2 separate regions of the Homo sapiens genome follow, and region 2 is linked to region 1. The links come from fine-mapping of genetic effects on gene expression. A gene starts in region 1. The other region holds a variant in brackets. All regions are shown on one strand. Distances are between the middles of the regions. Region 1 holds the start of CWH43 (cell wall biogenesis 43 C-terminal homolog). Region 2 has its middle 320 kb from the start of CWH43.

The links. PIP is the estimated chance that this variant, and not a neighbour inherited with it, causes the effect.
Region 2: its variant is the best candidate, but not a certain one, in a credible set for the expression of CWH43 in sun-exposed skin (GTEx, PIP 0.86).

The regions. Positions count from the first base shown.
Region 1 is chr4:48,984,684-48,988,935 of GRCh38, forward strand. It overlaps CWH43 (cell wall biogenesis 43 C-terminal homolog), which reads left to right and starts at 1,592. Exons shown (of 16, transcript NM_025087.3): 1 at 1,592-1,789; 2 at 3,794-3,985. The coding sequence starts at 1,747.
Region 2 is chr4:49,300,042-49,304,293 of GRCh38, forward strand. No RefSeq gene overlaps it. Among named protein-coding and RNA genes, the nearest start is that of CWH43, 320 kb to the left of the region's middle. The variant A/C (reference allele first, on the strand shown) is at 2,072.

The DNA.
Region 1 (4,252 bases):
ATTTACTTTGATGTTTTCTTCCAAGAGTTTTACAGTTTTATTTCTTACATTTAGGTCTTTGATCCATTTCGAGTTCATATTTGTATATGGTGTGAAATATGGATCCAACTTTATTCTTTTGCATACAGATAGTACTCATAGAATCATTTTTTTGAAAAGACTCTTCCCTGTGGAATTGTCTTGGCAAGTTTGTGAAACTCATTTGACCCTAAAAGGGGGTTTTTATCTCCAGTCTCTCACTTCTATTCCATTAATCTATGTATCTACCCTTGAGATTGAGAGAGCTAGTAATTAACCGATTAAGAACTGTTTACTTGGTCAGGCGCGGTGGCTCACGCTGGTAATCCCAGCACTTTGGGCGGCCGAGGAGGGCGGATCATGAGGTCAGGAGTTTGAGACCAGCCTGGCCAATATGGTGAAACCCCGTCTTTACTAAAAATACAAAAATTACCTGGGTGTGGTGGCACGTGCCTGTAGTCCCAGCTGCGCGAGAGGCTGAGGCAGGAGAATCGCTTGAACCCAGGAGGCGGAGGTTGCAGTGAGCCGAGATTATGCCACCGCCCTCCAGCCTGGGCTACAGAGCAGGACTCCGTCTCAAACACAACAAAACAGAAAAAAACTCTTTGCTCAATACTCCTATGGACTTAATAGCAATGATTGCTGCTAATGTGATTCTAATACTTTTTGGGCATGCCATCATTGTTTAATTTCAGAGCAAACTTTCTGGAACTGATAAATAATAAGCTCTCCTTAAGAAATTAAAGTGCATTAAAATAAATTGCTTTCAGGGGTTCTTAAACAAGTTCAAGACATCCAGGAGTGTGATACATTTGAGCGAGAAATAGCTGGCCTAGTTCACTCTCCACATTAATCAGAACGTCTCCCACCTTCTTTTTAGGGATAAGCACTCTCAAATATCATTATTCATAAACTAGGGGAGGGCCGGGTTTCCACTCGCATCAGTTACTTTCTCTCCCCTGAGAATATCTTGCAGCCGCTGGAATTTTGGGCCCCTTTGCTAGGAGGCAATTAACAAATTGCACTTTTACTATCAAAGCTGAGAGTGGCCCAGCAGTGGCCCTGGCCCTGCCGGCACGCTTCCGATGCGTCGCCCTGGCCTGAAGATCGCCACAGTCGGGTTCGCGCCCCGTGGTCCCCTAAGGCTTCCAGGGCGCTGGAGCTGGTGCACAGGACCTGCTCCTCCAGGGTCCCCATCTGGGTCTCCAGCGGTCCTTCCTCTCTGCCTTCTCCTCGCAGAGCACCCCGTGGGCCTAGTCTAAACGAGGGCACCACTGGTCCGGAGTTGCACTTGTTCGCTCCCTCCTGGGCTCTGGCAGCGCTGCATCCCCGGGGTTGCTTCGGGTTCGGGCCCAATAGCAGAGTCAGAGCCGAGACGCATGTCCCCTGCACCGGCCAAGGGTGCCGCTGGGGCTCGCGCCAAGGAGGCAAAGGCGGGGACCAGAGGCGCCGGAGGCGGCGCAACGCGCACAGGTGGCGCCCGGCCTGGCCAGGCTCTGGCAGGCGAGGCTGGGTGTGGTCGTGAAGGGGCGGGCGGACCGGCCCCACACTGCCTCGGTTCGGCAAGTGGGTCAGTTGGCTGGGGCTCACTTGGCAACGGGACGCGGGAACGAGGGGCGCGGACGCAGGCCCGGGAGGACGCGGCGGCGGGAACCTGGGGGCGCAGGGCTAGGGCAGCGGGCCCGACCCGCACGGCTTTCCTGGAAAGCGCTGCCCCTCGCCGCGGCGATGCCCTCGCTGTGGAGAGAAATCCTCTTGGAGTCGCTGCTGGGTAAGCCGAAGCCCCTCGCCGCGAGTTCGCGGGTGCCAGCTCCCCGGGCCATGTCCAGAGCCGTGGAGCCAGGCCAGGTTGGCTGAGTTCAGGTAGGAGGAAAAGGGCGCTCCGTGCCCAGAGTGGAGATGCTTATCGTCCCCTGGGAACTTTTCCTACTGAAGGGAATAAAGGAAAAGACCTAGATTGAAGTCTTCAAGCTGAGTCTGCGAGGCGCCCGCGAGAGACCCCGTCGCCCGAGTTCCCAGCAGCCCTGGGATTGTGCCCAAGGAGCGCGAATTCTCCTCGTGTCGGCCTTGACCCCGCGCGGCCGGTACCGTCCCCAAAGCCCCCCACCCGTGGCCTTTAAGTTTAACTTAATACAGTTCAGTGCTGAACTTTAAAATTCAGAAGGAAAGGGGCACCCGTTTTCCCCAGGAGCTGTAGGTGGACACTGGGCGGCAGCTGCTGCCGTGGGCTGGGCCCAGGACAAGTGGCCTTGGTGTCGGCTGCACACTTGGGCATTTGGCGAAAAGCATCAGACTCGAGTCTCATCTGCTCTCTCACCAGCTTTGCAAAATCCCGAGGACAATTTTATTGGTGTAATTCTGTCGGAGCTGTGTGAGTAATAAAATCAAAGTTCCCAGACAAACATTTGGGATATTGCTAGAATCCCCGGTTCGTTACAAAACAAAGATCCCTCTGGTCTGGGTGGGGCGCCTTCCTGAGAACTTGATTTTCTGGGAGCTGGTAATTCTCGGGAGTGCTTCAGACTATTTTTTTCTGGCTCAGCCTGTATCTATAAGTTGGGAGATGTACAGTGCCTAGCATTCAATAAGTACCTCAGGTGCTAGGTACTCAGTGCACTTGATCTCATTTAATCCTCCCAACAACACTGTGAAGGGGTTGAAAGTCCTATTTTGCTGATTAAGAAGGGGAGGTTGGAAAGTCAGTTGGTAGAAAGTTCCCACGCCCAGTGGTTAGACCGGCTACCTTTGGAGCCAGGCTGCTTAGAGTTAGGGCAACTCTGACATTTGCTACTTGTGTAACCTTAGGTACTCACTTAACTTTCTGAGTCTCAGTGTTTTGTTTGTTGTTTTGTTCTTGCTTAGTTAGTTTTTGCATTTATAAGAGGGGAGCGGAAATAGTACCCACCTCATAGCTTATGGGGCTGTATAAGGAATGAGACAGATGGTACATGTTAATACTTAGCACAGACCCTAGTGCATGGCAAGTGCCCATAGCGTTAATTATCATTATTGCTCAAGATTATACAGCAGCTGTTGGCAGAGGTACAACTTACTTCAGATCTGGGTATTCCACTACCCAGCACTGCCTCATAAGGATTGGACTGAAAATGGTCTACTCAAGGGAACGACTGCTGCCTCACTCAAGTGCTTTTGGGTGTAGTCTGGGGTTGGAGGAGGGAGTCCTGCTGCTTGCTGCCCTTTTGGACTCTCACAATATTTTTCATTATACAGGGGACAACTTAGGTAAGAAAATTTTGTCAGTCAGGGTCCTGACGGGATGCCAAATTCAACTCAGATGGTCCAAATGAATAGGACTTAATAAAGAGACTGTCTACAGCCATATGGGCAAGGGAAAGGAACACGCAAGGGATGTTGAGAGACTCACGGCAGCAGGAAGCCATCCTCTACTGGGGCCTGATGCGAGGAGTGGGAGAATATGTACATTTCACCAGAAATTTCACTTCTGGGTATATATCCTACAGATATACTCAGTGTCATGTGTTACATAGTGACATTTCACGAGGAAATTGCCATTGCTTTTCTGTCCATCAGTCTCTTAAGCACAACACAGTCAGTGCAGTGAGTTCTGCGGATCCCTACACAGGTGTAGAGCTCTTGTTTTGTTCCATGTCAGTGGAGACAACTGGAACCCAGTTCAGGCCAGAGTCATGAAGAAGAATGACCAGCCCAAGCGGCTGGAGTGGAGGGACAGGACTGTCGTTAGAAACAATGTTGAAGTTACACTTTCTCTCTTTAACTTTTTTTTTTTTTGTAGGATGTGTTTCTTGGTCTCTCTACCATGACCTGGGACCGATGATCTATTACTTTCCTTTGCAAACACTAGAACTCACTGGGCTTGAAGGTTTTAGTATAGCATTTCTTTCTCCAATATTCCTAACAATTACTCCTTTCTGGAAATTGGTTAACAAGAAGTGGATGCTAACCCTGCTGAGGATAATCACTATTGGTAAGATTTAAAAGAGTTTCTTTAAGTTGTTTTTTTTAAGTTAAAAATCAAGTGAGATTATGTAGACTGTTCTTTGAATACTAAATATTTGAATTTAAAAAATCAAAGATTTCTCTTTTCCTTACCACTGCCTTAGAAGAGCTTTAGTAATTGGAAGACTAGACTGAGAGTCAATGTGTTTTACATTTCCATTGTTTTTTCCAGACTAGAAAGACCTAAAAATCACTGCAATGAGTAGGGGAAAGACACCTTAAAGAACTGATCAGC
Region 2 (4,252 bases), 320 kb after region 1:
TAATTTTCTAACTCGCAGAAGGAAGGAGTGTGTGTGCGTGTGTGTGTGTCTGTGTGTGTGCGGTGTGAGGTATGTGCCCCTTAAGAAAATGGAAATCAACCAACCAATGAGACAGACACACAGACAGACAGACAGACAGACAGACAGACAGAGAGTCACTTGCCCAAGTGTTCTGTCCTGTCCTCTGAATCTGCCTCCAAGTCGCAAGACGCCGTGAGCTCCAAGTCCACGCAGAGTCCGCCAAAGGCTCCGGCCGCTGATCCGCTCCGCGAAGATCTGAGTACAGGCCAGCCAGCGTGGGTTTAAATAGCCTCGGGCGCAACCTAGCAGCGGAAAGGGCGGAGCTTCACTCCTCCTTTCCGTCAGTCACCCCCAACTTTCCCAGGCTACACCTCGTAGGAAACTGTTCTACTTTGATTTCATGCGCCACCTTTGGAACAATCTAAGAACTTCCAAGTTTTCTTGGCCAGATATATTAGGAATTGTATGCACTGAAACACTGAAAACCAACTAGTGGTTCTGTGGTTCCCACGTTGTGGTTTTGACGCCAGCAGCATCCTTGCCACAATCAAACCCCGGAGATCCACAGATCTGTGTTGTAACAAGACCTCCCCCTGACCCTGATGCATGGCAGTTTAAGAAGTCTTTCCGTGTAAGCGAAAAGACTTTGAAGAAAAGGTGGAGATATGCGTTGTATAAACATTCTTTTGCTCTGGGACCAGGTGGAGACTTGGGAGCCAGTTGGGTGGAGCATTCGTTGGATGAGGGTGCTCGGGTTCGGAATATCAAGGTGTGGCTCCAGATAATCCAATCATCTAATTAAGATTCCAGTTGTGCTCATCTGTTTTAAAATTCCGTTTGGGTAAATTCTTTTATTCAGACTGAGAATGGCAAAGCCTCAACCCCAATTTCCAGGGAGGGTTGAGAGCCTCAGGTGGAGTTGATCACCAATAGCCTATGGTTTAACCCATCATGCCTATAGAATGAGGTCTCCATAAAAACCCAAAAGGACTGGGATCAGAGAGCTTCTGTATAACACTTCTTGGAAGGTAGTGCGCCCCTCCCCACATGCCGGGCCCCACATTTATTTCTGAACTTTTTGCAATGTCCGCTAAATAACAACGGCAAATGTAAGTGTTTCCCCGAGTGCCGTGAGCTCTTCCAGCAAATGAATGCAACTAAATCTGGGAGTGGTGGCAACCTGATTTATAGCCAGTTGCTGAGAAGCACAGGTAAAACAACGTAGGGCTTCCCGTTGTTACTAGTGTGGGAGGCCTGCCTGGCGGGACTCGGCCCTTTGGAATCCAATGCTATGTCCCGGTAGATAGCGTCACCATTGAATTAGAAGACACACATATGTTGAGAATAATCTTTCTGGTCATTTGCTGCATGTCTTATTTACAATATGTAATCAAATTCCTTATCCTGACCTTATGGCACCTGGGTTGAGAACCATGATTTGAACCAAACATTGGTCTGTCACTTTCTGAGTTTGAAACTTTATTTTGCCTTTAGCGTTTTGCTACTGCTTTTTCGTTTTCTTTTGTTTCGTTTCGATTCTAAGTTGTGGGGTATATGTGCAGGATGGGCAGATTTGTTACTAAGGTAAACGTGTGCCATGGTGGTTTACTGCACCTGTCAACCCATCACCTAGGTATTAAGCCCAGCATGCAGTAGCTGTTTTTCTTAACGCTCTGCCTCCCGAAAGGCCCCAGTGTGTGTTGTTCCCCTTCCTGTGTCCATGTCATCTCATTTTTCAGCTCCCATTGTAAGTGAGAATGTGGCGTTTGGTTTTCTTTCCCTGGATTAGTTTGCTGAGGATAATGACCACACATCACCGCTGTTTTTGTTTTTTAGTATAAAGAGTAGCATTTTATTGAATAAGATTTGCTCACAGAAAAATAATCTTAAATCTACAATGAATGCCAGACTCTACAGCAGAAAGGAATTTTCTCACTTTTCCACACACAATGGTTCCTACTAAGTGAAAAAAAGCCATAAAATTTCATTCACAAATGTATTACTCTGTCTCAAAACATCTCACATAATCATGCACTGTACTAAAGCCATT[A/C]GATCAGTGCTTCAGTCAGGTTAAAGAAGTATCCCTCTAATAACTGACTTTTATAATGCGATCAATATGCACTCCCAATCAGTCTGCCATTGTTAATGGTGTACAGCATTACTGTATACAATGGAATTGATGACACCCATATCCATGGACAAACCGTGACTTATGATGGTTTGATTCATGATTTTTCAACGTTATGATGGGTTTATTGGAATATTAGATGCGGTTCCGAGTTACACTGGGTTTATGAGTATGCGACCCTATACTCCAGAAACAGCTGTATAAGGAAAAACAGGTGTACATAATAAAAATATGCTTAGTGACTTGCGATAAACCAATAGATGTTCACAACTGATGGAGAGCCGTGAAAGAGAGATAGCGGTAAATAGTTACAATAACACAATTTTCCTGCACCTGTCGAGGATTTCCCCAAGAAAACGCAGAATGTGGGATGCACCTAAGGCATGTGAAAGTGAGAGGGCAGAAGGAGTAAGAGAGAAATAGGAGGAAGGAAGGAAGGAAGGAAAGAAGGAAGGTAGGAAGGACGGAAGGAAAGAAAGAAGGAAGGAAAGAAGGAAAGAAGGACGAAAGGAAGGAGAAAACACCCGGTGTTACTAAAACCCCCCAAAAATATGGTTTCCCCCTGTGGGTAAGCCTACAATGTGGAGGAATCTTGAAAATATTGTGCTACGTGTTATGTCAGTCATAACAGCTCACCTATTGTGCAATTCCGTTTAAAGGAAATGTCCACAATATGGAAATCTCTGCATATGTGGTTGATCGCACTAGCTAGTTGCTACCTAGGGCTGAGGGTCAGGGAGAGGGTTTGAGACAGAATGAGGAGTGACTAATGTCTACAGGGTTTTTCTCTGGTCGGGGGTGATAAGACATTCTACAATGGATTGCGAATTAAAATTGAATGTGCACAACCACAGGTGTACTAAAAGCCACTCAATTCATGACTTTTAATGGGGGAATCTTATGTGGCGCACTCTCATGGAGACCACGGCAGACATAGTGAGAGAGAAAAAGGTGAGTGAATATCTGAAACGGAGGCAGAAACAGAGAGAATGAAAAGCCCAGTGAATGGAAGGGAGAGCGAAAAGGGAAAATGGTCCTATTTCCAAATGACAGATGTGAAACTGGGGTTCACATCAACAGTGTCACTGCCAGGAAGGAGGGTGATGCTAGCCATGTCACCGGTAGTGTGTCTCGCAGGGACGCCGACCTGCTGGAGCGTCGTGCCAGCATGGGCTCTGTCAGCCACGTGGGCCAGCAGGAGGGTCCCGCTGCACAGCTGTGGGGTGAGGATAGACTGGGTGGTGATATCGGCCATGACGGGGGCCTCTTCTGCTGGCAAGAGTGTGACAGTAGCAAGTAGATGGACAGGCCTGCGTGTGAGGACGGAATGCAGGAGCGGCTCTTGTGCGGCTGGGTGTGGGGCCCTCACGGGAACCGTGGAGTAATGGCCAGGTAACTGCGTCATGTGGGCTAGTAGATTGGCCAGGGCTTCGAACTGAAGGACAATAACGGGGAGTAGCTGTCAGGCCCTGGGAGTGTCTGAGTGTAAGTGGAGATGGGTTTGGGGTCACTGAGGGATGCATGGGAGCCATCCCTGTATAGGTACAGGTCATAGGGAGATAGTCTCGTGTGGCCCGTGAGTGTCTAGGGTTGTCCTGGGTGCCTGGGGCTGACTGTGGCAGAAATCTGGGGAAGGCTGGAGAGAAGCTGGGAGACCCAGGAGAGTCCCTGAAGGCAGGGGGTGAAGAGGTGAAAGAAATGGGGGAGGGTTGCAGTAAGGTCCGTGAGTTTGTAGGTGATTCCTGGGTGCGGGAAGCTGACTCCAGGTGAAATCTGGAGATGGTTGGAGAGTAGCTGAGAGAGACAGAAGAGTCCCTGAGGGCTGGGGGTGAGAACATGAGGGAGACTGGGGAGTAAGTCAGTGAAATTCGTGAGTTCGGTGTTGTATCGTGGGTGCCTGGAACTGACTCCAGCTGGAATCTAGAGAAGTTTTGAGAGTAGCTGAAAGAGACACAAGAGTCCCTGTGGGCTGAGGGCAAAGACCTGAGAGAGACCAGGGAGGACCTCAGTGAAGTCTGTGAGTCCGTAGGTGATTCTGGAGTGTGGGAGGCTGACTCCCGCTGAAATCTGGGCGTGGTGCGGGAGTAGCTGGGACAGACAGGA